7 linked regions of the Homo sapiens genome follow. The protein of the gene in region 1 purifies or fractionates together with the protein of each later gene. This does not show direct contact. Each region holds a gene or a part of one and is shown in the gene's direction. Other genes may lie near its edges.

The links.
Region 2: the proteins of DNAJC5 (region 1) and REXO2 fractionate together in Homo sapiens (co-fractionation; one large-scale study listed by BioGRID). This does not show direct contact.
Region 3: the proteins of DNAJC5 (region 1) and USP22 purify together in Homo sapiens (affinity purification with mass spectrometry; one large-scale study listed by BioGRID and IntAct). This does not show direct contact.
Region 4: the proteins of DNAJC5 (region 1) and ECE1 fractionate together in Homo sapiens (co-fractionation; one large-scale study listed by BioGRID). This does not show direct contact.
Region 5: the proteins of DNAJC5 (region 1) and DNAJC7 purify together in Homo sapiens (affinity purification with mass spectrometry, with the first as the bait; one large-scale study listed by BioGRID). This does not show direct contact.
Region 6: the proteins of DNAJC5 (region 1) and CSNK1G3 purify together in Homo sapiens (affinity purification with mass spectrometry; one large-scale study listed by BioGRID and IntAct). This does not show direct contact.
Region 7: the proteins of DNAJC5 (region 1) and TTPAL purify together in Homo sapiens (affinity purification with mass spectrometry; one large-scale study listed by BioGRID and IntAct). This does not show direct contact.

The regions. Positions count from the first base shown.
Region 1 is NC_000020.11:63,901,626-63,905,125, forward strand, and holds part of DNAJC5 (dnaJ homolog subfamily C member 5), read left to right. Parts: intron 1-3,500. UniProt on the Homo sapiens protein: Acts as a general chaperone in regulated exocytosis. Acts as a co-chaperone for the SNARE protein SNAP-25. Involved in the calcium-mediated control of a late stage of exocytosis. May have an important role in presynaptic function.
Region 2 is NC_000011.10:114,445,967-114,449,466, forward strand, and holds part of REXO2 (oligoribonuclease, mitochondrial precursor), read left to right. Parts: intron 1-12; coding exon 13-121; intron 122-1,859; coding exon 1,860-1,913; intron 1,914-3,500. UniProt on the Homo sapiens protein: 3'-to-5'exoribonuclease that preferentially degrades DNA and RNA oligonucleotides composed of only two nucleotides. Binds and degrades longer oligonucleotides with a lower affinity.
Region 3 is NC_000017.11:21,005,012-21,008,511, reverse strand, and holds part of USP22 (ubiquitin carboxyl-terminal hydrolase 22), read left to right. Parts: intron 1-515; coding exon 516-642; intron 643-1,524; coding exon 1,525-1,616; intron 1,617-3,500. UniProt on the Homo sapiens protein: Deubiquitinase that plays a role in several cellular processes including transcriptional regulation, cell cycle progression or innate immunity.
Region 4 is NC_000001.11:21,283,964-21,287,463, reverse strand, and holds part of ECE1 (endothelin-converting enzyme 1), read left to right. Parts: intron 1-3,500. UniProt on the Homo sapiens protein: Converts big endothelin-1 to endothelin-1.
Region 5 is NC_000017.11:42,010,940-42,014,439, reverse strand, and holds part of DNAJC7 (dnaJ homolog subfamily C member 7), read left to right. Parts: intron 1-3,500. UniProt on the Homo sapiens protein: Acts as a co-chaperone regulating the molecular chaperones HSP70 and HSP90 in folding of steroid receptors, such as the glucocorticoid receptor and the progesterone receptor.
Region 6 is NC_000005.10:123,571,177-123,574,676, forward strand, and holds part of CSNK1G3 (casein kinase I isoform gamma-3), read left to right. Parts: intron 1-2,216; coding exon 2,217-2,365; intron 2,366-3,500. UniProt on the Homo sapiens protein: Serine/threonine-protein kinase. Casein kinases are operationally defined by their preferential utilization of acidic proteins such as caseins as substrates. It can phosphorylate a large number of proteins. Participates in Wnt signaling.
Region 7 is NC_000020.11:44,478,874-44,482,373, forward strand, and holds part of TTPAL (alpha-tocopherol transfer protein-like), read left to right. Parts: intron 1-556; exon of another isoform or gene 557-1,111; 5' UTR 1,112-1,126; coding exon 1,127-1,571; intron 1,572-1,702; coding exon of another isoform or gene 1,703-1,818; exon of another isoform or gene 1,819-2,650; intron 2,651-3,500. UniProt on the Homo sapiens protein: May act as a protein that binds a hydrophobic ligand.

The DNA.
Region 1 (3,500 bases):
AGTGACTGCAGCTCAGCAGAGGGAGTGTGTGGAGTGTGCGGCCCTGCCTGGCTTTTATTTTGCTCCTCCTGTTATTGGGAGGGATTAGCAGCAGAGCGAATGTTTGGATCTTTGCTGAGCAGTCCCATCGGATTTTTCTTTATTAAATAGGATTGTGTTTTATTGTAAGAAGGTTTCCCTAAGACAAATAACGAAGGAAATTCTGGGTCCAGGAGTACAGACTGTAGCTTCTGTCATCTCTTGCCAAGTTCGTAGCCCTCAGATGGTGTCTGTCTTTCCCCTTTGCTTGCGGGGCCTTTTACCACAGCACTTTGGTGTTCTTTTAGCTGCTGCGATAGGACTAGCTGTTAAAATCTGAGATTTTACATTTTTGCCAGTCGCAATAAATTTTGTTAGTTCTTTCTTGATGTGTTCTTTAAAATAATAATGCTTTTTTTTTTTGGGTGGGGGACAGAGTCTTGTGCTGTCGCCCAGGCTGGAGTGCAGTGACGCGATCTCGGCTCACTGCAAGCTCCGCCTCCCGGGTTCACGCCATTCCCCTGCCTCAGCCTCCCGAGTAGCTGGGACTACAGGCGCCCGCCACCACGCCCGGCTAATTTTTCGTATTTTTAGTAGAGATGGGGTTTCACCGTGTTAGCCAGGATGGTCTCGATCTCCTGACCTTGTGATCCGCCCAGCTCGGCCTCCGAAAGTGCTGGGATTACAGGCGTGAGCCACTGCTCCTGGCCTCATCTTTTTTTTTTTTTTTTTTTTTTTTGAGACGGAGTTTCACTCTTGTTTCCCAGGCTGGTGGAGTGCAACGGTGTGATCTTGGCTCACCGCAACCTCTGCCTTCTGGGTTCAAGTGATTCTCCAGCCTCAGCCTCCTGAGTAGCTGGGATTACAGGCGTGTGCCACCACACCCAGCTAATTTTGTATTTTTAGTAGAGATGGGGTTTCTCCATGTTGGTCAGGCTGGTCTCGACCTCCCAACCTCAGGTGATCCACTCACCTCGGCCTCCCAAAGTGCTGGGATTACAGGCGTGAGCCAACGCACCTGGCCTCATCTTGTTTTTTTTTTTTTTTTTTGAGACAGAGTCTTGCTCTGTCGCCCAGGCTGGAGTGCAGTGACTCAGTCTCGGCTCACTGCAAGCTCTGCCACCTGGGTTCATGCCATTCTCCTGCCTCAGCCTCCCGAGTAGCTGGGACTACAGGCACCCGCCGCCACGCCCAGCTAATGTTTTTTGTATTTTTAGTAGAGACGGGATTTCATCGTGTTAGCCAGGATGGTCTCGATCTCCTGACCTCGTGATCTGCCCACCTCGGCCTCCCAAAGTGCTGGGATTAGAGGCGTGAGCCACCGCGCCCTGCCACATCCTGTTTTTTTTACAACAGGGTGTCACTCTGTCTCTCACCCAAGTTAGAGAGGAGTGACACAGTCTTAGCTCACTGCATTCTCCCAGGCCCAAGCAATCCTCCTATCTCAGCCTCCCAAGTAGCTGGGACTTTAGGTATGTGTCACCACAGTTGACTAATGTTTTAATTTTTGTAGAGATGGGGCCTCCACATGTTGCCCAGGTTGGCCTTCCTGGGCTCGATCCTCCTGCCTCAGCCTCCCAAGGTGGTGCATGCCTACAGTCTCAGTAGATTAGAATCACCCTAACCCTCAGTAACTGAGATTGTAGGCACGCACCACCTCACTGACTCACCTCAAACTCTCTTTTTTGAGATGGAGTCTCTGTCACCAGACTGGAGAGCAGTGGTGCGATCTTGGCACACTGCAACCTCCGCCTCCTGGGTTCAAGCGATTCTCCTGCCTCAGCCTCTGTAGCAGCTGGGACTACAGGCATGCGCCACTACGCCCGGCTGATTTTTGTATTTTTTAGTAGAGACGGGGTTTCACCATGTTGGCCAGGATGATCTCGATCTCTTGACCTCATGGTCTGCGCACCTTGGCCTCCCAAAGTGCTGGGATTACAGGTGTGAGCCACTGCGCTCGGCCCATCTCAAACTTTTAATAAGGCTCTTCGTATAGAAATTTTTAAAAAATTAAAAACATTTTTGGCCAGGCTTAGTGGTTTAAGCCTGTAATCCCAGTGCTTTGGGAGGCCAAGGCAAGCAGATTACATGAGGCCAGGAGTTTGAGACTAGCCTGGCCAACATGGCGAAACCACGTCTCTACTAAAAATACAAAAATTTGGGCAGGTGCAGTGGCTGACACCTGTAACCCCAACACTTTGGGAGGCTGAGGTGGATAGATCTCTCGAGTTCAGGAATTTGAGACCAGCCTGGGTAACATGAGGAAACCCCATCTCTGCAGAAAATACAAAAGTTAGCTGGGCGTGGTGGTGCATGCCTGTGGTCCCAGCTACTCGAGAGGCTGAGGTCAGGCTGAGGTGGGAGGATCCCTGGAGCCTGGGAAGCGGAGGTTGCAGTGGGGGATGAAAAAGAATACCCCGTGTCCAAATAGCAAAACACTCTGAAATGAGGCAAACCGTGGTTTGTTGAACAGGTGTTCTGGGACAAGGTTGCCGAATATGCATTAGCCGTAATCCCCAGGACAGCCATGCAGGGTGGGTCTTAAACAGTTTTTTAGATTCTCGAGTATAAAGGTATAATATTGAAGAATAAGCACAAATAATGTCATCATACATGTTAAAGTGACAACACAGGATTTACAAAATTACCCTTTTTTCCCCAAAATTACCTCTTACGATGTGGTTTCTGTTGGTGCTGTTTTCTCTTGCATCATCCCGCCAGGTTGGGTAACCCTAACTGATTGTCACCAGCAGACCAACAGACAGACTCACAGCATCCTTCTCCCTGGTGTGAGCACTGCTTAATTCACATTTATGAAAATACTTTAAGACAAGGGCACTGTAACTCACATAGAATCTGAAGTGGCCTTGAACAGGGAGCTGGTCCAGCTGCCTCTTAGTGTGTCTGACCTCCAGGTGGGCGGACTGAGATGCGTGCAGGTGTTCATGGTATAGGCATCCTTGTAAACCTGCTCTGGTTAAGGATAAATAGGCAAAGTTGTGCTAATGCTGTTCCTACAGCAGCCTTTGCCCTGGACTGACTCCAGAACAGCTGGCTGACTGACAGCTGCCTCCCAGTAAAGCCTTAAACAGGCTTATCTTATATTTTTAAAAGGCAAAGGACAATAAGGCAGATTAATAAACTGTGGGGGTTTTTTTGTTTGTTTTTGTTTTTCTTGAGACAAAGTCTCGCTGTTGTACCCCAGGCTGGAGTGCAACGGCGCGATCTCGGCTCACTGCAACCTCTGCCTCTCGGGTTCAAGCGATTCTCCTGCCTCAGCCTCCAGAGTAGCTGGGATTACAGGTGCCCGCCACCACGCCCGGCTAATTTTTGTATTTTTAGTCTAGACGGGGGTTTCACCATGTTGGCCAGGCTGGTCTCGAACTCCTGACATCAGGTGATCCGCCTGCCTCGGCCTCCCAAAGTGTCAGGATTATAGGGTGAGCCACCGTGCCTGGCTTTTTTTTTTTTTTCCTGTCTTT
Region 2 (3,500 bases), on another chromosome or scaffold:
GTGTCTTTCTAGGAAATTCAGTTCATGAAGATAAGAAGTTTCTTGACAAATACATGCCCCAGTTCATGAAACATCTTCATTATAGAATAATTGATGTGAGCACTGTTAAAGAACTGTGCAGGTAAGGGCTATATTTAGGATCCATTAAATTACCTCATTTAGCATGTTTTAATTGAGAATTTGTGGAAAGTAATTGGATAGAGCTGTAGAACTAAGGCTACCAAGTGGGTTCATATCTTCCTCATCCCATTCTTGCTTGTATAGGACCTTAACTTACCCTGGACTGGTGAGAATTGGGAGCAACAACGTCAGACATGTTCCCAGTAAATAAGCCAATGCCTGGCACAAAATAAGTGCTCAATACATTTTCTGGATTAACTAATATTATGTGGAAGTCTTGTGACTGGGAACATATAGATGAAAAGCTCTTAAGTACTTTAGAAAATAGTGGATCGACATATGTGTAAAAAAACGCACCCTGAAAATATACTCTATGATGACTCCTATAGTGAAAATGTGCGTATGGACTAGTGAGGTCACAAGGGAAGCAGCATCTAACTGTGCTGGAGCAAGAGGAATGGGGAGTCAGAGAAACCTTTACATAGCAAGGAAATAGCTTTGAAATTGAGATGTGAAGAAGAGTGGAAGTCTTGCAGGCATTTTATTGAGGAGAGAGCATTCAGAGAGAGCAGACAGAAGTATAAGAATGTGAGGGAGCAGGAAGCTAAGGCAAAATGTGTTAAATGAATCCCAAAGCATTCATTAATGCTGGAGTGCAAAGCATGAGGTTGGAGAAGGTGGGAGGTGGTTCTAGGGCCTCAAGAGCTTGCACACCATGCCAGTGAAGTTCACTATGATCTTGCAAGGAATGGGGTTCCTTTGAGAAAGTGTAGGTAGAAGAGTGAGTGATAACGATCGTTCTGATTCGAAGGTGGCAAGAAAAGTGGTAGAAAGATAGAAAGGAGGCTTTTTTTTTTTTTTTTTTTTTTTGAGACGGAGTCTCGTTCTGTCGCCCAGGCGGGAGTGCTGTGGCGCGATCTCCGCTCACTGCAAGCTCCGCCTTCCGGATTCACGCCATTCTCCTGCCTCAGCCTCCCGAGTAGCTGGGACTACAGGCGCCCGCCACTGCGCCCGGCTAATTTTTTGTATTTTTAGTAGAGACGGGGTTTCACCGTGGTCTCGATCTCCTGACCTCGTGATCCGCCTGCCTCGGCCTCCCAAAGTGCTGGGATTACAGGCGTGAGCCACCGCGCCCGGCCTGAAAGGAGGCTTTTCTGCCATCTTGGGGAGAAGAATGAACTGGAGAAAGGGCAGGGCATGGAAATGAGGGGCTTGTATGATAAAAATGTGAGAGGGTCAGTTGACAGACACTCAGTGTTCGAATGAGGTGGTGTGAAAAGGAAGAGGTATAATGTTATTCTGATGTTTGTAGTTTGAGCAGCTTTGGTGGATGATGGCAGTGTTCAAATAAAAAGGAGAAGAAGAAGAGTAGATATGGTGGATGGGGCAGGGGAGGTGTTGACAATGGTGGGTGTGTTTTGATGTATGTTGAATTAGAAGTGTCTGGTAGATTTTTAGATGGAGATATCTAGTGGGCAGTTGCATATCCATGACAGAAACTCTAGGGAGGGCTGGGCTGGATTTCCAGATTTAGCAATCTTACACACTGATGAGCTTGCTCATAGAAAATATATAGAAGAAAGAGAGGAGAGGGTAGAAGATAGAGGCCCCGGCAAAGAAGCAACTTGAGAATCATGACTCAAATGCCATTTTCAATGTTAATGGATTACTTGAAGGAGGTAATTGTTCAGTATATTTGAGACAGCTTCCTTTGAGAGTTCCATTTCTGCTGTGTATAGACGCTGGTATCCAGAAGAATATGAATTTGCACCAAAGAAGGCTGCTTCTCATAGGTAAGTTTGAGTTCTACCAAGCGTTTTCCAGTCTGACACACACTTAACTCCCAAATTCCTGACTGCTTGAAATAATGTCCCTTAACTCTTTTTTCTCGGGGAAAAGATAAAGTTCAACTAGCATAAACATAACATTCTTTTACTGTTAGGAATTCTGGTCAGGATTCCAGTGTTCCATTCTGAGAGGGTTATATAGCCTTTATTGCTGTTTCAAAACTCTTAGATAGCTTGGTTTATAGGAATGATGAAACAATCTGTAATCTTTCTAGTAATGAACCGTGTTAACTTTCTTCCCACAGAAGATATGGACTTGCAGCCTTTTGAAATTAGAACACTTTTTGTGTGCAATTCTATAATACAGTTGCCTACTTTGACACTTGTTATAGTTTTTCTGATTGTTTCTCTTATGTCTGTAGCCTTAGGTACAAGTAGACAAGGAATTTAAAGATCTTGTATATTCATGTGTCCTGTACTGGTTCTTTTCTTTTTGATTTTGTAGTCTTTCAGGAGAAACATGAAACCTGATGGGAGGTTTAGCAGCTGGCTTCTAAGGGTAGCATTTATTAAACCATTTACTGAACCCCTATGATGTACCTTGCACAGTTATAGGCAAATAGAGAAAGACCAATCCCTAAAGAGTCTGGCATTCTTACATTATTTTATTGAGTGTATGTAGACTGTAGCACAGGCATACAGGCCTAGACTACCTTATCTGACACAACTGGGGTATGTTTTGATTTCAGAATTTTTCAGATTTTAGAAAGGTGTTACTACATCTGTATTGTTTATTATCTTGTAGCATCCCTAACAAGGTTTGAGAAGCAGCCCATAATAAAACACATAGGTATTCTGCAGTGAAACGTGTATATTCACACCAAATGGCATAAGTAATGATGACTGTCAATAGCCTCACATTAAGATTGCTCAGGTTTTGCTACATAATAGGTTCTGTAAGTACTGTGGGTTTTCAGGTGTGTTTTGGATTTCAGTTTTGTGGATAAGATATTGTGTGCCTTTATTTAGCCAGAGGCTATAATTTTGGCAGCTTCGGCTCTGACATATATCCAAGTCCTGGAAAGAAAGCAGATGGTTGCCTTAGCCACACAAATAATTGTCATAAAACTCTTGCACTAAAATTTGTGCAGGGAATTCTCTAGAAGTGGCCCTTGGCCCATGATTCAGAGTTTATTGATTTACTTGCACACTGTTCTAATAATCTTGGTTACCTGATTTCTCAGAATACAACAGATGAGAAACAACATATTGGAAGAAAAGAAAGGCTCTTAGATGGAGGCAGGCTGCCACTGATTATAGCACAAATCACCATGAGAGAGGAGGTAGATCCTCTGGTATGGTTAGGTACTGTTTGATAATTGATGTTTATTATGATGACTGAGTCATGACTTATGTTCAAGTGTGTCAGTCTGTTTTGTTGAGGGACATCATCAAGTATTGGGCAATGTTTCTCAAACTGTGTTCCATGAACTGTTTATAAGTATTCTACAAATGTGGTCGATTAAGTTTTAGAAATACTAAAATTTATTAATTTTAGAAAATTAATAAATTAGAAATATAGGACAGCTTCCT
Region 3 (3,500 bases), on another chromosome or scaffold:
ATTGGCTTTTCTTGCACATCCTAATTCTCTGGGGACGCATCCAGGGTACAGCTTGGGATCAGTAGTTCCTTCCTTTTTTGCTGCTGTCTCATACTCCATGGTACAGTGTTCCACAGTTTCTTTAATTATTCAGCCATGGGAAGAAACGGGGTGTTTCCAGTTTTGTGACTCTCGTGAGTAACATTCTGGTGCACATTTGTGGACAGTTTGTGTGTGAACATTAGTTTTCATTTCTCTGGCTCAAATTCAACTGCTGGGTCATATGGTACTTAGAAAATTATTACCATTTCCCCAGGCCTTTCCTGGAAAAAAAATATTTAAGATAAATATTCTGTAGAGACAGGCAGCAAAGGTGGACAACATTTTCTCTTTTTTTCATTGTTTCATTTTTAGTTGTAAGTGTATGTTTTTGGTAGGGAAATCAACCCAATGAAAGAGATAAAATACCTCTTTCCTCTCATTTTTCTGTCTCTTGCATCTCCCTTACCGCTCCTGTCTTTTTTGAACGCCTGTAGATTCACCAGACCAGAGCACTTGGGCAGCAGCGCCAAGATCAAGTGCAGCGGTTGCCATAGCTACCAGGAGTCCACAAAGCAGCTCACTATGAAGAAACTGCCCATCGTAGCCTGTTTTCATCTCAAAGTAAGTTTTCCAGAAAGCCAACTCTAATGGCAGACTTAGTTTTTAGTCCACAGTACGGTCCTCAGCCTTTTGGTTTGCTGTGCAGTTACATTTTTTATAATTGCAGCAAGCAGGAAGAACACCGAGGAAGGGAGGGTGTGAGGGAATTGTCCTCCCATCTGTGAATTGTCCTTTTGTCTGTGCTGCGGTAAACAAAATCAGTGGCTTCGCAGTGAAAGTAGAATGTGAGTTTTCTTGGGAGCAGAGTGGTTGTGAAGTTTTTATTACTTCTACCATTCCTCCAGCTACCCCCTCCTCAGGTTTTCTGTTTTATTTTAAGACAAAGGCCCTCAGCATGCAGATCTGGTCCAGGAGTTGGCAAGCTCTTTCTCTAAAGGCCCAGATAACTGAAGATGTCGAGCTCCACAGGCTGCGTGCGATCATACGATTCTCTGTTACATGTTCTTTGTTTCATTTCACCACCCTTTAAACATGGAAAACGCCCATTCCTAGCTTGCTGGCTGGAATGGGTGACTCCTGATCTAGGCAAAGGACTGTCTTCTGTCTGGTGAAAGGAACAATTTGTTCATTTTTGCTGCCATGGGCCACGGATCTTTGTTTTGTTTTCTGTGCTTTGCTGGGTTTGCTGTAAGATTACTTTTTGTACCCTTGGTGTTACCACTGAACAGTCCCATCATTTGAAGACTTGAACCCTGTAAATGAGGACTTGGGTGGATTGCCACTGTGTTTTTGAATCTGTAATTCTAGATGTAGCTACAAGGCAGTTCAATAAAATACAAAAGAGATAACACAGACACCTGTCATCAGAAGAAGGCCCTGAAGCTTCCAGTGACATTTCTGATCTTCTTTCCTCTTCCCTCTGTCCCCTTCCTATTTCTGCAGCGATTTGAACACTCAGCCAAGCTGCGGCGGAAGATCACCACGTATGTGTCCTTCCCCCTGGAGCTGGACATGACCCCTTTCATGGCCTCCAGGTATGTGGGGTTGTAGGCCCGTTCTGTGTCCTGAGGGGCTGTGATCCTATCAGGACAGGAATCCAGCTCGGAGCTCCTATTAAGATGACTGTTGGCCGGGTGCAGTGGCTCCCGCCTGTAATCCCAGCACTTCAGGAGGTCGAAGCGGGCAGATCATGAGGTCAACAGATTGAGACCATCATGGCCAACATGGTGAAACCCCGTCTCTACTAAAAATACAAAAATTAGCTGGGTGTGGTGGCAGGCACCTGTAGTCCCAGCTATTTGGGAGGCTGAGGCAGGAGAATCGCTTGAACCCAGGAGGTGGAGGTTGCAGTGAGCCAAGATCGCGCCACTGCACTCCAGCCTGGTGACAGAACGAGACTACGTCTAAAAAAAAAAAAAAAAATGACTGTCGATACTAATATAAACCCCACCTTCCCCAAATCTGTTTATCCTGATCTTAAGATACAGCACATGTTAATGAGTTGTTTTTCATCAGATACCCTGTTTTTGTTTTGAATTTCTCAACAATTATCAATCCACTTTCAAACCGGCAAAGTCCTCAAGGTGGGATCACAGCGAGAAGGCAACATTTTAGTTCGTGGAACAGATGTTGAAGTACAGGCAGACATAGTTGGTTTTGCAGTTGTAGATTGCATTTTCCTTTTCAAATCTGCCTATTCTGGGGTACTTGGAATTCAGCTGCTTACTAATGCATGAGACACATAGGAGTTTCCTGTGGTTCTGTGACAAATGACCAAAAACCTGGCGGCTTAAAATTAATTTCCTCACAGTTCTAGAGGTTGGAAATCTGAAATCAAGGTGTTGGCAGGGCTCCATGTCCTACAAGGGTCTTGGGGATTCCATTCCTCACCGCCTCCAGCTGCTGGTGGTTCCACGTGTTCCTTCTGTGGCTGTCACTCCCCTGGCTTCCGGGTCACATGGCCAGCTCCCCTGACTCTGTGTCCAGTTCCCTCTGCTTCTCTGTCATGACCGTGGTCATTGGCTTTAGGACCTAGGCAGATCATCCAGGAGGATCTCATCTCAACATCTTTACTTTGAGTCTCTGCAAAGACTGGTTTTACAAATGAGGTCCCAGTCTCAGGTTCTGAGGGTTGAGACGTGGATGTTGTTATTTGCAGGGTGTTATTTTTTGGTGGCCACAGTCCCAGCCCCAGCACCGTGGAAAGCATGTTGCTTTTTGGTAGTTAGCGGCCTCTTCCTGGTGTCCTCTCATGGCTGTCCCACCCCTGTGGCACACAGATGACCTCCTGAATAAAACAAGACCAGAGTCAGAGCTCCATATCATCAGTCTGACCACGATGGTCACGTACTGAGGGAGGTGACAGTACTGTTCTAAGGTCAGGGTCTCAAAGATCTTGGTGTTTCCTGCCAAACACAGCTGTAGGAAAATGCAGTAAATAATGTGCATGGCTTCCTGTTCCCAGCACTCCTCTCCCCCATCTCACCAGGGGAGGTGCTGGTCATGAAATAATGAGCAGCAATCTTTGTCCCTTTTGAGGAGGCACCTGCCTAGGTTGTAGAATGGATTCAGCGTACCCTTTCAAGCTAACCCTTTACATGTGGGAGGAAGAGCACCTTCACCATCTGCTTTGTCACAAACCAAACTCACATTCCTCCAGATCCAGCTCCCATTACCAGCCCTATTCAGGACCCACCTTGGAAGAACCAGGGGCCACGCCAGGTGGCCTCAGGACCCAGGTGTGCTCTGAGGCAGGGGCCTCCACAGCTTGAGCGTCAGTGTCCTCACGAAACATGGGGAGATTTCTGCCTGAAGCATAAAGTGCACCTCGGTGCAGCATCTGCATGGTCAAGCTTGGATAAGTGTTGGTTTCACGAGAGCCTTGTGTCTCTGGGCCTGATGATTTTAATGATGCTGAA
Region 4 (3,500 bases), on another chromosome or scaffold:
ACCTCCGCCTCCCAGGTTCAAGCAATTCTCCTGCCTCAGCCTCCGGAGTAGCTGGGATTACAGGCGCACGTCACCACGCTCGGCTAATACTTGTATTTTCAGTAGAGACAAGGTTTTGCCATGTTGGCCAGGCTGGTCTCGAACTCCTGCCCTCAGGTGATCTGCCTGCCTCGGCCTCCCAAAGTGCTGGGATTGCAGGCATGAGCCACCACATCCAGCCTGTGCTCTCAATTTTAGACTTTTTAAAACAGACCCTTCATCCCAAATCTTTTCTCTTGATGGACAGCTAAAAAATAAGCTATTTGATTTTTCAAGATTTTGAAGTCCATTCGTTTTAGGAAGTCCCAAGTGATCAACACCAATAACTAATAAATGAACACTTCCATTTTTCAGCCAAACTTGACACATTTGTTACTTTATTACTTGCCACATTTATTTATTTTTTATTATTGGACCTGCTGGCCAATGTTGAATTTAACCAGAGCAAAATTCTACCTGTACCTCACCTGAAAGGGTTTTTCTTTTTCTTTTTTTTTTTTCTTTTTTTTGAGACAAGGTCTCACTCTGTTGGCCAGGCTGGAGTGCAGTGGCGCAATCTGGGCTTACTAGCAGCCTTGACCTGTGATTCTCTCACCTCAGCCTCCCAAATAGCTGGAACTACAGGCATGTGCCACCATGCCTGGCTAATTTTTTGTATTTTTAGTAGAGATGGGGTTTTGCCATGTTGCCCAGGCTGGTCTCGAACTCCTGGCCTCAAGTGATCCTCCTGCCTCAGCCTCCCAAAGGGCTGGGATTACAGCCACCGTGCCTAACCTGTTCTTTTTCTTTATCCCATATTTTAGGCACAGATTACTTGCAGTCTACTAAAGTGAGTCACTCTGAACCAAGCACAGAATTCAAAGGAAGCTGGCTCTAACTTGGAGCCCCAGCTCTGTCTCTCCTGCGCTGTGAGACCTGAAAGCAACTCACTTCCACAGCTTTCTTTGTAAAATGGGGTTAATATTATTAGCCCACCTCTCAGAGCTGTTGCAAAGGCTCAGTGGGACAGTATGAGGGAAAGCATTTTGGATAATGCTTAGAAAATGGATTTGGTTATTAGGTTATTACAAGGATTATTACAGAAACTCACTATGAGTGACATGATATAATAATATACATCTAAATATGCTAGCTTTTGCTCTGAAGCCTCTTGCTCTGCCAAAGCCAGCTGCCTGATCTTCCCACACCTGAACATACACCATTTTCAGCGGCAGGAAGGGATATAGCTGAAGTTACACCTGCAGCCTGAACTGAGGAGCAGATGGCCATGTCTACCAAAACCTTTGAAATTCATTCAATTACTTCTAAAAATCTTTTTTTGTTGTTGTTAAGAAAAAAAGAAAGGTGAGATATTAAATTCTTAGTTATAGTTTTCTCATTTTTTTCCCACCTTGCACAGGGCTCTCTTCTCTTCTCTTTTTTTTTTTTTTTTTTGAGACAGAGTCTTGCTTGTTGTCCAGGCTGTAGTGCAGTGGCACAATCTCAGCTCACTGCAACCTCCACCTCCTGGGTTCAAGCAATTCTCCCACCTCAGCCTCCCCAGTAGCTGGGATTACAGGCGTGCGCCACCATGCGTGACTAATTTTTGTATTTTTAGTAGAGATGGAGTTTTACCATGTTGGCCAGCCTGGCCTCAAACTCCCGACCTCAGGTGATCCACCTGCCTCGGCCTTCCAAAGTGCTGGGATTGCAGGCATGAGCCACTGTGCCCAGCCTTTTTTTTTTTTTTTTTTTTGAGGCAGGGTCTTGCTCTGTTGCCCAGGCTGGAGTGCAGTGGCGTGATCATGGCTCACTGCAGCCTTGAATTCCTGGGCTCAAGCGATCCTCTCACATTGGCCTCCCAGAGTGCTGGGATTACAGATATGAGCCGTCATGCCTGGCCAAAGCTGTCTTTCCAGGGTGATTTCAGGGACAAGCCCGCTCAATACTTTAAAAAGACATGTCTGTTTACCTGGAGTTGTTATCAACTCTGTTTGCCTATTATATAGCCTTGAGGTTTGAGAGTCTGAGAAGTCACACCTGGGACCTCAATCAGCCTCCTCATTTTAGAGATGGGAGACTGAGGCCCAGAGACTGCCCAGCAACACACAGTGGGATATTTGACTTCTCAGGGTTACCATCTTTCTCCCATGCTGTGGGGAGCTGGGTGTTCCTTCTGGGAAGCGATGAAAGTTGGAAAGTACTTGTAAATATTAGCCTTTGATTCTTGCTAAGATGTGAGGAGTGCCCTCCCCTACAACGGATCATATTTTAAGCTGTTACCAGTCATTTAAAGTCAGGCATCTGGGTGGGGTAGCAGACAAGGCTCAGGCAGAGACAAGAGGACACAAGGACTTGAGAATTTTGCTCTGGACTGACCCCATTGCCTCAGCCAGAAGGCCACCTCATGGAAACTTTACTGGAAGAAACTTCCCCAAACTGACTTTGGGGAACTTTCGGAGGCAGGGTTCCTCGCAGGCTGGGCTGTCACAGTCGACTTGCTCTCAAAGGCTTACTCCAGGGAGCCTGGTGCCCCTGCCAGCGCTCCCAGGTGGCTGGGTTTCTGGGCTGCAGAGGGGTGGGATCCCTGCCAGACCCTTGCCCAGACCACTCCCATTGCTGCTTCGTGCAGCCCAGGTTGCTGGGTTCTGCCTTCCCTTCCGACCTGACTCTGAAAACCTGGCTTCACCTGGCTCCCCACCCTTTCTGCTCCCGGCTTGTCTCGTGGGCCCCAGGCAGCAGGCCCCATCCTCACCTGCAGAACTTGTTCTTGCTGTAAGCCTAGGTGAGCCAAGCACTCACTTCTGTAACCAAATATGTGTCCCGGATTAGGGCTTTGTTCCCTTGGCTGTGGAAACCCTGGGAACTCCTGGCTGGATAGCGCTGCTCTTTTTCCCTTACTCTAGCTCTCTCGCTCTTTCTGTTTCTCTGGCTCTCTCATTTCTTTGTCTCATTCTCCACCTCTCTCTTTTGAGGGCACCCCCTCCTTCTCATTCTCTTTCTGCCTCCCACGACAATAAGTAGGAAATTAAGCCCACCAGCGAGCTGAGCATCTGCAGTGATTCTGCATCTTCCAGGCATCAGCGCTGCCTCTTAGCGGATGGCCATTTCACAGTCCCCTCTCCTGAGATGGACTGGGCTGCCTGCCACCAATCCTCCTACCCTCCAAGCTGCTTAGGCCAGTCTCCCATGCTTGACGGGACCTCATTTCCAAAAGAAACGTAAGAAACCAGTCACATCTCCCCATGCTGTGACCTCATCTCACGGATCCCCTCCACAGTCCCATGAAGGAGGCTGGGCAGGTGCGACAGGGATGCAAAGAAGAGACTCAGCCGAGGCCAGCGGCCATTGGAAGCAGATCGGTGCCCTGACTCACGGCCCAGCCCTTTCCATTGCACCCAGGAATTGGCCACCCTGCCCTGGAGAGGCCTCCTGATCCTGGCCTAGTACCTCTAGGTGACTTCTCCTGCCCCAGGGTGAGG
Region 5 (3,500 bases), on another chromosome or scaffold:
AATCCCATCATTTTGGGAGGCTGAGGTGGGCGGATCACGAGGTCAGGAGTTTGAGACCAGCCTGGCCAACATGGTGAAACCCCATCTCTACTAAAAATAGAAAAAATAGCTGGGCGTAGTGGTGGGCACCTGTAATCCCAGCTACTCGGGAGTCTGAGGCAGGAGAGTCGCTTGAACCCGGGAGGCGGAGGTTGCAGTGAGCCAAGGTCACACCATTGCACTCCAGCCTGGGCGACATGGTGAGACTCCATTTCAAAAAAAAAAAAGGAAAATAAGTGAAATAAACAAAAAAATCAGTTTAACTTTTTGCCATATCAGACATCCTTAGAAGAATAAACATTGGCCGGGCGCGGTGGCTTATGCCTATAATCCCAGCACTTTGGGAGGCTAAAGCAGGCTGATCACCTGAGGTCGGGAGTTTGAGACCAGCCTGACCAACATGGAGAAACCCCATCTCTACTAAAAATAGAAAAAAAAAATTAGCCAGGCATGGCGGTGCATGCCTGTAGCCCCACCGACTTGGAGGCTGAGGCAGGAGAATCACTTGAATCCGGTAGGCGGAGGTTGCGGTGAGCCGAGATCGTGCCATTGCACTCCAACCTGGGCGACAAGAGTGAAACTCTGTCTCAAAAAAAAGAATAAACATTAGGCTCTGTTAGTATGAAAAAGCCTTGTTTATGTATGATTTTTCCAGTGCTGAAAATGGGATGGAGATTTAGAAGCTTTGGAGGGAGGTGGTTTTATGTTTTTCATGTGTCCTGGATTCCTCTTGTGTGGCCATAGCAGAGGGCAGTGATAGGGGCATCCCTTACAAATGCCCTTTTACTGTCTGGCTTGGTTAGAGTTCTTTGGCCAAGTTCCTGCCTCTGTTGTTATGGTCCTCCTACCAGTTCATTTAGGGATCAAGAGTTAATGAGTCTCTCGGGTCGTTTTTGTGAGGTCCAGCTTTGTAAGGAGTCCTTCCTTCCTTACGTCTTGGCTTAAGACATGTCCTGCTGCTGCTAAGTTGTCACAGTCCCATAGGGGGGCAAAATGAGAGGAGCTTTTAAGACGGACTTCACGATTGCAGCATTTTAAATGGCTACATGTTTTATTTCCTTAGCTTTAGTGTTTCTGTAGAGAAAAGAGATGGATTTCAATTTTTTTGCATGTCACTCTGACAAAGTTCTGTTTCCCTTACAGCAGCCAAGAAACTAAAATAAGGCTAGGCTTAGTGGCTCATGCCTGTAATCTTAGCACTTTGTGAGGCCAAAATGAGAGGATCGCTTAAGCCCAGTAGTTTGAGACCAGCCTGGGCAACATAGTGAGACTTAGTCTCTATAAAAACATTTAAGGCTGGGTGCGGTGGCTCACGCCTGTAATTCCAGCACCTTGGGAGGCTGAGGCCAGTGGATTGCTTGAGGCCAGGAGTTCGAGACCAACCTGGGCAACGTGGTGAAACCCGCCCCCCATCTCTGTAAAAAAAAAATACAAAAATTAGCAGGGTGTGATGGTGCATACCTGTAGGCCCTGCTACTTGGGACGCTGAGGTGTAAGTATCACCTGAGCTGGGGGAGGTCGAGGCTGCAGTGAGCTGCGATCACACCACTGCACTGCATCCTGGGTGACAGAGTGAAACCCTGTCTCAAAAAAAAGGGTTGGGGCTAAAATAAAAGATATATTAGTTGGCACTCCAAAACAGATCAGGATTCTATGCATGAAGATTATTTCTCTTTGCTCACCAAAACAGGCAAAGCTATTTATGAGCCAGAGGGTTAAACTTCAGATGTTTCACATTTCAACTAACTTAAGGCTTTATATTTTCCTGGGAAGTTGCTGACTGCTTTACCTAATATGGGAATACCTGTCTTGAATTAAGGATCTCTTGTTATATCTCCTGGGCTGGGAAACAGCTTGATCTCTATAGGGAGTCTTTCTTATGGTAAACTTGAGGGATTTCAAATTGTTTTCTTTTCTTTTTGACGGAGTCTCGCTCTGTCACCAGGCTGGAGTGCAGTGGTGTGATCTCAGCTCACTGCAAACTCCGCCTCCTGGGTTCAAATGATTCTCCTGCCTCAGCCTCCCGAGTAGCTGGGACTATAGGCGTGTGCCACCACACCCAGCTAATTTTTGTATTTTTAATAGAGACGGAGTTTTACCATGTTGGCCAGGATGGTCTCGATCTCTTAACCTCATGATCCGCCCGCCTTGTCCTCCCAAAGTGCTGGGATTACAGGCGTGGGCCACTACACCCAACCTCAAATTGTTTTTCAAAGAGAAAACACTTACGTGTCTCAGCATATACCTAGTGTGACTGGACAACAAGATCTAAAAGAATCAAGGGATCCATAGACTTAAGAGTCAGGACATCCTTACCTGATTCCTTGAGCTGATAAACTTAACTTCTCTGTATGTTTTCCTGATGGGCACAAATAAGAGCAATTCTTATTAGGCCCTTACTACCTAGGTATTGTACACTCTTTGCGATTAGGATTTTGCCTTTTATTTCTCTATTCAGATTGTTAATGGGAACAACTGAACTCTCAATTCATGTCCCGGGTTTCCTGTAGTTGCTGTTCGTTTGCTGCAGCTTTGCATGGTGTTTTTGAGTTTGTGGCCTCACTTAACTGAAGAGCTTGTGGGCATGCCTCCCCAGCTTTCTTCCTTACCTGGTTTTAAATTCTTAGGAATGTGTCCTTCTAATCTTCCTCTTGAAGTTTCAGAGCAAGCACCTAGACATTTCAGTAAGCCTCCAAACTGAGTGGGAATTTATCTTTGACCTGGAACCCAAATCAGTGAGAAACACTATTTTCCTTTTGCTGTGCACTAAGTGTAGTCAGATGTGAAGAAATGGGAGATGGGAGGAGAAATAAGTTAAGGAAGGGATAAACCTAGGAATACAGAATTCTCAATACCGGCAAATTAATTGAACCCTGATACTAACAGATGGCAAAGTAGATAATCATAACTGGAGCAAAGGTAGAGTACAGAGAAAGGTTCTCTCTTAGTGCTTTAGTTCAGATCCACATGTTAACTAGTGCCAGAGAAACAAGAATTTTGAGAAAATATAGGGCCAAGTGAGTGGCAGTTGCTTAGAGTCCAGTCCACTCCCAACAAACAGAACTCTGATTGGCCGAAAGCCCAGCCTTATTGTACATTCCAGCCAATCAGGGATTAGTTTAGTCATTGAAGTTTGTATTTTAATGGTTTTGAAAAGCTGAGTACTGGGCACTTGCTTTTTTGTTCTTCGGGACTTTAGAAGTTTGGAGAACAATAGTCAGCAGTTGCCTAGTTGCTTTGTGGCCTGATGCAGAGTCCCTCTGAGAGCCCATTTCTCCCTTACTGCACTAGTCTTTGGTCCCCTTTCTCCAGCACTGAGTGATGTGGAAGTTACTCAGAGGTCTTTCCAGGTATTCTTTTAAACTTTTGAAGTAAGAACAAAATTCAAAGTGCAGTTATCCTAACAGGCTATTCATTTTATTGGAGTGACACTGTTTTTCCTTCTCCCATTCGGATCAAAA
Region 6 (3,500 bases), on another chromosome or scaffold:
TTGGGGTGTATCAGAATCTCTGTTTCTGGGGAGGGCACCATGTATGCAGTTTGAATTTGTATCCATTCCTGCTATGATTACACTATCTTTTTTTGTTTGTTTGTTTTGTTTTGTTTTGTTTTTTTGAGAAGGAGTCTTGCTCTGTCGCCCAGGCTGGAGTGCAGTGGCGCAGTCCCGGCTCACTGCAATCTCCGCCTCCTGGGTTCAAGTGATTCTCCTACCTCAGCCTCCCGAGTAGCTGGGACTACAGTGATTACACTAGCTTACATTCCCACCTGCAGATGTTCTGCTGCCTCACTCATATTCATATCTGAGAAATACTTGTCTCATCCAAATCACTAATATTATAATAGATAAGTAAACTGAGGCCCACTTGAGAGGTTGAATGACAAGCTAGCCACACAGCTGATGAATATTAGGTTAGACTAAGAATGTAGTTTTCTTGGTTTTTAGTTCAGTGTTTTCTATTCTGTCCTGCAATGATTTATATTCAAAATAATAGGGTAAATAATAATAATGTTATATTTAAAAAACGTTTTATTAAAAAGAATGAGAAGTTTTCATTAGATTTGTTTTCTCTTTCAATATACTGAAAAAAAATCACTTGGAAGTAAAACTGAGACATTTGTGGTGGAAGAAGTTCATTTTTTCATGCTAATAGATAAATGCAGTGTTAAGTGTCAAACTAAATAATAGGGAGACTTGTCTAAAAGAAAATGATAGTTATTTACGAGTGGGCATTACAATGGGAATATATGTGAGTATATTCAGGGAGGTAAAGGAAGACAAGAGTTTTTAAAGGAAAAATGAGGAGGGTCACATAAGTTGTTTTGAGAGAGTTACCCTTGGCTACAAGGATCATTAACAAGAATGGCCTCAGTCTGAAGTTGGACAGGCAGTTCCTGGGCAGATGTCCTCACAGAGTAATTTTTTGTAAAGTTGTGGTGGCTTTTGTTCCAGGTTGTGGTTTTTGCAGTCTTTTGTGGTAGTTCTTCTTATCAGGCATATATATATATATGTGTGAGAACCCTCCCTTCATCTCCTTCCCTAGCTCTGTTTGTCAGGGTTTTAATACAAGTGACTCTGTTTTGATTCTGACAACTTCCATATAAAGTAAATTGATCACTTACATTTCAGTTTATTGGGAGTCTGTTAGTTCTGAAAATAAAATACAGATGACTTCATATTTGGAGTTTGTATTATTCAGACTTCATATTTGGAGTTTGTATTATTCTATATAGCTTCATAATGAATTATTACTATCTCTTACTGGCTTAAGATGAAAGACTTTATTATCTCACAATTTCTATGGGTCAGGAATACGGGCATGGCTTTGCTGGGTCTTCTGTTTAGAGTCTTACCATGTGGAAATTAAGGTGTAAGCCTGGACTGCAATCTTACATGAGCCTCAGTGCTCTCTTCCAAGTTCACTGATTCTTGTCAGAATTCAATTCCTCATGGCAATAGAACTGTGTGGCCCTTACTTCCTCAAGGATTCCTATCTGGCATGTGGCTCCCTCCACTGCATGGTGGTTTGCTACTTTAAGGCCAGCAGGAGAGTTTCTCTGCTGTTTCCAATATCTCTGACTTCTAGACTATCTTTTTAAAGTCTCACCTGAATAGGTCAGGTCCACCAGGATTCTCTTCCTTCTGATCAACTTACAGTCAACTGATAGGAGCCTTAATTACATTTGCCGTATAAGTTAGCCTGGTCACAATAGTGAGATCCCAGGAATCATGCTCACGTTCAAAGGGAGGGGTTTATACAAGGTGTATAAGCCAGAGGATGGGAATCTTGACAGTGGTGATCTTAGCAGTATGCCTATCACATGGTTATTAAAGCCAGTAGTGACTCTCTTTTCAGTAGAACTGGAATCTCTCCTATGTGCTAAGCCTTTCTCCAGGCCATGGAAATATAAAGCTAAAAAGCCCAGCTTTTGTCCAGTAATAAGGTGGTAGAGAGAAACAATGAAGTACTGTTTATAATGTAATTCAGTCATGCAGCTGCAATAGAGGTGTATCCAGGCTACAATGTGAACATCAAAGAGAAGGTATTGGGAGGTTGGGAGGTTTGGTCAGGAAAAGTATGTATCTGGAAAAAGTGATAGTACTGCTTTAGTTCTTGAAACTATAAAATTTTAAATATCAGTTTTTAAGAGGAAAACCTTAGTATTTAAGATGATGAAATTATTAAATGAGTATTTCTTTTCCCCCAGATGGTATACCTCAAGTTTACTATTTCGGCCCTTGTGGTAAATACAATGCTATGGTGCTGGAACTGCTGGGACCTAGTTTGGAAGACTTGTTTGACTTGTGTGACAGAACATTTTCTCTTAAAACAGTTCTCATGATAGCTATACAACTGGTAAGTAAAATAAGGTATTTGAAGTTGTTTGAACAATTACATGGTTGTTGGTCACAAATTCATATTAAAAGTTTAAAGTTCTGTGATATTGTCTTACAGAGCGTTTGACGTAATACAAATGTTTCTACTTTTCATGTTGTCTTTCTGGGATCCATGTAACTTAAAATAACTGAGTCAAGTATATTTTATTTGTATAAAAACTAATAATTGCTTTAAGATCAAAATGCTCAGTTTGCAAATTAAGTTGTTGCTAGCCATTTCTTCATATAAAAGATGATTACTTCAAAAGAGAACCCTCAGAAACATAGATTTTTTTTTTTTTTTTTGAGACGGAGTCTTGCTTTGTTGTCCAGGGCGGAGAGCGGTGGCGAGATCTTGGCTCACTGCAACCTCTGCCTCCCGGGTTCAAGCAATTCTCCTGCCTCAGCCTCCCGAGTAGCTGGGACAACAGGTGCATGCCACTACGCCCGACCAATTTTTTGTATTTTTTGTAGAGACAGGGTTTCACCATGTTAGTCAGGATGGTCTCGATCTCCTGACCTTGTGATCCGCCCGCCTTGGCCTTCCAAAGTTCTGGGATTACAGGCGTGAGCCACCGTGCCGGGCCAGAAACATGGATTCTTAATTTTGGTAATAGACTTTATGACCTGGAAAAACAAGAGGCAGACTAATGAGAGAGTCTTGATAAACTACTTAGACTTCAGGGAATCCGTTGGATAACAATTAGAGAGTGATTTTAAGGCAGTTTCGAAATAAATGCCAATAGAAGTGTGCTGCAGAAGTCTTAAAATTGTTTTTATTCATTGACTCATTAATTCTACAAATTTATCCTATGGATGTTTTCATAGGTACTTAAAGCTTTATATGAAAGGATGTTTATAATAAAAAAAGGAGAAGCAACCCAAATATGCAGAAATAACAGGGTTAGTTGAATAAATTAATATCCAGAGGAAAATATGCAGCTGTTAAAAAGTGCATATTAAAGATTGTTTTATAGGCTAGGTGTGGTGGCTTGTGCCTGTAATCCCAGCACTTTGGGGAGTCTGAGGCTAGAGGATCACTTGAGCCCAGGAGTTCAAGATCAATCTGGGCAACATAGTGTGACTCTGTCTCTACAAAAATAAAAATAAAAAAA
Region 7 (3,500 bases), about 19 Mb from region 1:
CTGCCTCCCGGGTTCACGCCATTCTCCTGCCTCAGCCTCCCTAGTAGCTGGGACTACAGGCACCTGCCACCACGCCCGGCTAATTTTTTGTATTTTTAGTAGAGATGGGGTTTCACCGCGTTAGCGAGGATGGTCTCGATCGCCTGACCTCATGAGTCGCCTGCCTCGGCCTCCCAAAATGCTGGGATTACAGGCGTGAGCCACCGCGCCCGGCCCCCTAATTCTTTTTCATGACTGACTAGTACCCCATTAATATGGTAATATTACTTAACCAGTCTCCCCTGATAGGCAGTTAAGATGTTTCCAATCTTTTATCATTATAATCAATACTTGTGAAGGCCATGTGCATATTATGCATATATATACAAGTATATGTCCTAGAAATGGAATTGCTGACCCAAAGGGCATGTAGGTTTACATTCTGAAGATATTGACAAATGCCCTCCAAAGAGGCTGTCAATTTATACTCCCAGCAGCAGCAAGCATATTAGAGTACGTTTATTTTTGCCAATCTGAATCTGAGTTGTTTTTTTTTTTTTTTTTTTTTTTTTTTTTGAGAGTCTTGCTGTGGCTGGAGTGCAGCAGCGCCATCTCGGCTCACTGCAACCTCCACGTCCCGGGTTCAAGCAATTATCCTGCCTTAGTCTCCCAAGTAGCTGAGATTACAGGCACTCACCACACCTACCTAATTTTTGTATTTTTAGTAGAGATGGGGTTTCACCATGTTAGCCAGGCTGGTCAGGTGATCCGCCTGCCCCAACCTCCCAAAGTGCTGGGATTACAGCATATACATTACAGTTGTTTTAATTCACATTTATTTAATGATGAATAAGGTCGAGCACCTATTAATACATTTATAAGGAAGGCCCTGGTGTTTATTAGGGAGTGTATAGTCTGCTGTAGCTGCTGCCTGCCTCCCTGGGGACTAACAGCAGCCGGCCTGGGGTCAGACTTGCGTGTATGGTTTAGATCCAGTTCATTGCCCCCAGTTGAGAAACACTGCCCTGAGGTTACTCGGTTTTTACAGAAGTGTTCCTGTCCCCTACACTGTACTGCCCTAGGATTTGAAATAAGCACTTGTTAACTTTGCTTAGGGCTTCTCTGTTGGCAGGGACCTTGGTAGCTAATGTCCGAAGAAAGTGACTCTCTGAGAACCAGCCCTTCTGTGGCCTCACTCTCTGAAAATGAGCTGCCACCACCACCTGAGCCTCCGGGCTATGTGTGCTCACTGACAGAAGACCTGGTCACCAAAGCCCGGGAAGAGCTGCAGGAAAAGCCGGAATGGAGACTTCGAGATGTGCAGGCCCTTCGTGACATGGTGCGGAAGGAGTACCCCAACCTGAGCACATCCCTCGACGATGCCTTCCTGCTGCGCTTCCTCCGAGCCCGCAAGTTTGATTACGACCGGGCCCTGCAGCTCCTCGTCAACTACCACAGCTGTAGAAGAAGCTGGCCCGAAGTCTTCAATAACTTGAAGCCATCAGCCTTAAAAGATGTCCTTGCTTCCGGGTTCCTCACCGTGCTGCCCCACACTGACCCCAGGGGCTGCCATGTCGTCTGCATCCGCCCAGGTATCTCCCTAGACTGTTGTGGGGTGTGTGTGTCCAGTCCTTCTGCAGTGTGTCCATTCAGCACCCTGTCCTCCTTTCCAAGTCCCTTTTTTACCCCTCCTTTGTTATAGTCAAGGCTCTTTTGATTGCAGATAACACAAACCTACTCAAACCAACTTCAGAAAAAAGGGAGGATTTAGTCGAAGGAGACAGGAGTCCCTCCCAGAACCAGAGAGCTGAAGGCGTGGCAGCTTTTACTAGGGCCTAGAACCAAGAACCAGAATGCCACCAGGAGCCAAGACAGCCGTTCTCCCTGTCTCTGCCTGACGGTCTGTGTATCCTTCAGCCACACATTTCTGCCTTTTGCATATCTTCTTCACACTTTTTCTGTGTATGGCTGTCCCGCTCCTGTGCACGTAGTTAAATCTGGCACCCTCTCAGCTCTCAGGTTTGCCTGACCACCAAATTAAGTTCCTCAATGCAGATTCCCAATTTCTAGTGGGGAGCATCTGGTGGGGCCTAAGAATCTGCCCCTGGCCATAGGATACAAGCATGACTGCCAGGGCCCTCTCTGAGCCCTCTTTGTGAATAGGTTGAGGTACAGGTATCAGTGCAAGGGTGCGGACTGGGCAGACACCTGGAAAGGTGCCTCCTCTGTGCCTCCTCCAACCTTTCCTTCCTTTCCTCTATTTTGTGAAGCCACTGACAGGATTCACTTTGGATTTGTTTTTTGATCTTAGCATTTCATGGCAGTGATTAGGATACCTTACATTTCTTTGTCATGGTGGTTTACGAATGGGGGCTCCCTGCCACTAAAAGAGCATTTAGAAATACTCCCCTGCCAGGCGCAGCAGCTCATACCTGTAATCCCCGCACTTTGGGAGGGTGAGGGAGAAGGATTGCTTGAGGCCAGGAGTTTGAGACCAGCCTGGGCAACATAGTGAGACCTTGTCTCTACAAAAAATTTAAAAAAAAATGCTCTTTGGGGAGCATTTCAACACAATGACCAGGGGCTGCCAGAACTCAAGATTTCTGATTCTTAGGCCTGTTCTCTTCCATGACACCAAAAGCGTTATTAAACTTTGGAATGTTCTACTCCATTCCTAGCCTCAACATTTTCCATCAGACCAGAGCTGAGAGAAAAATGGAAAGTAAGATGCAATGTTCTCCCCAAGTAAGCCAGGGAATGAGAACACACTAATAGCCCTCTTTCGCTCATTCATATAAACGCCCTCTTGAAGGGAAGTTTGATGGGGAGTGGACACCTCCATGCACTTTCCTCCGCCTTTACTCATTCCCCAAACTCTCTTTGGAGGCTAAACCATTCTCTTCAGACTTTACTATGTATGTACCAAGACCACTGTTAATGGCTTACCTGCCATTTTAGGTACTTGCCAAAATTAGTGGTGTTTATTTTAAAATAAGCAATGCAGTGCAGATTTTAGGGCGCCAGGAGACTTAGAAACCAGTCAGCAGGTTTTTCTGCTGCTCCTCTGTACTCAACTCATAAGAATATTACAACACAGTCAGATATTACAACACTGATTGCACCTTTGCTTGTGTAGTTTCAACCCTTTGCTTGTGAGATGAATTTTTTCCCCATATGTCTGGAGCAGATCTGGACCCCTTTCCACTGACCCAGCGTTTTAGGAAGAGGCATACACAGAAAGGTTTCTTCTCAATTGGGTATCAGCTTTGCCTTTGTTAAAGCTCTTTTGAGACATGTGATTGAAAGGGATGATATCCAGTTACATAGAGGCAGGGTTAATTGGCAGCAACGTTAGACAGCAAGCTGGCACAATTTGGGGACAAAGATCTTTCACGAGAATTTTGCACATATCAGGTCAGGTGTGGTGGCTCATGCCTGTAATCCCAGCACTTTGAGAGGCTAAGGCAGGTGGATCATGAGGTCAGGAGTTCCAGACCAGCCTAGCCAACACAGTAAACGGC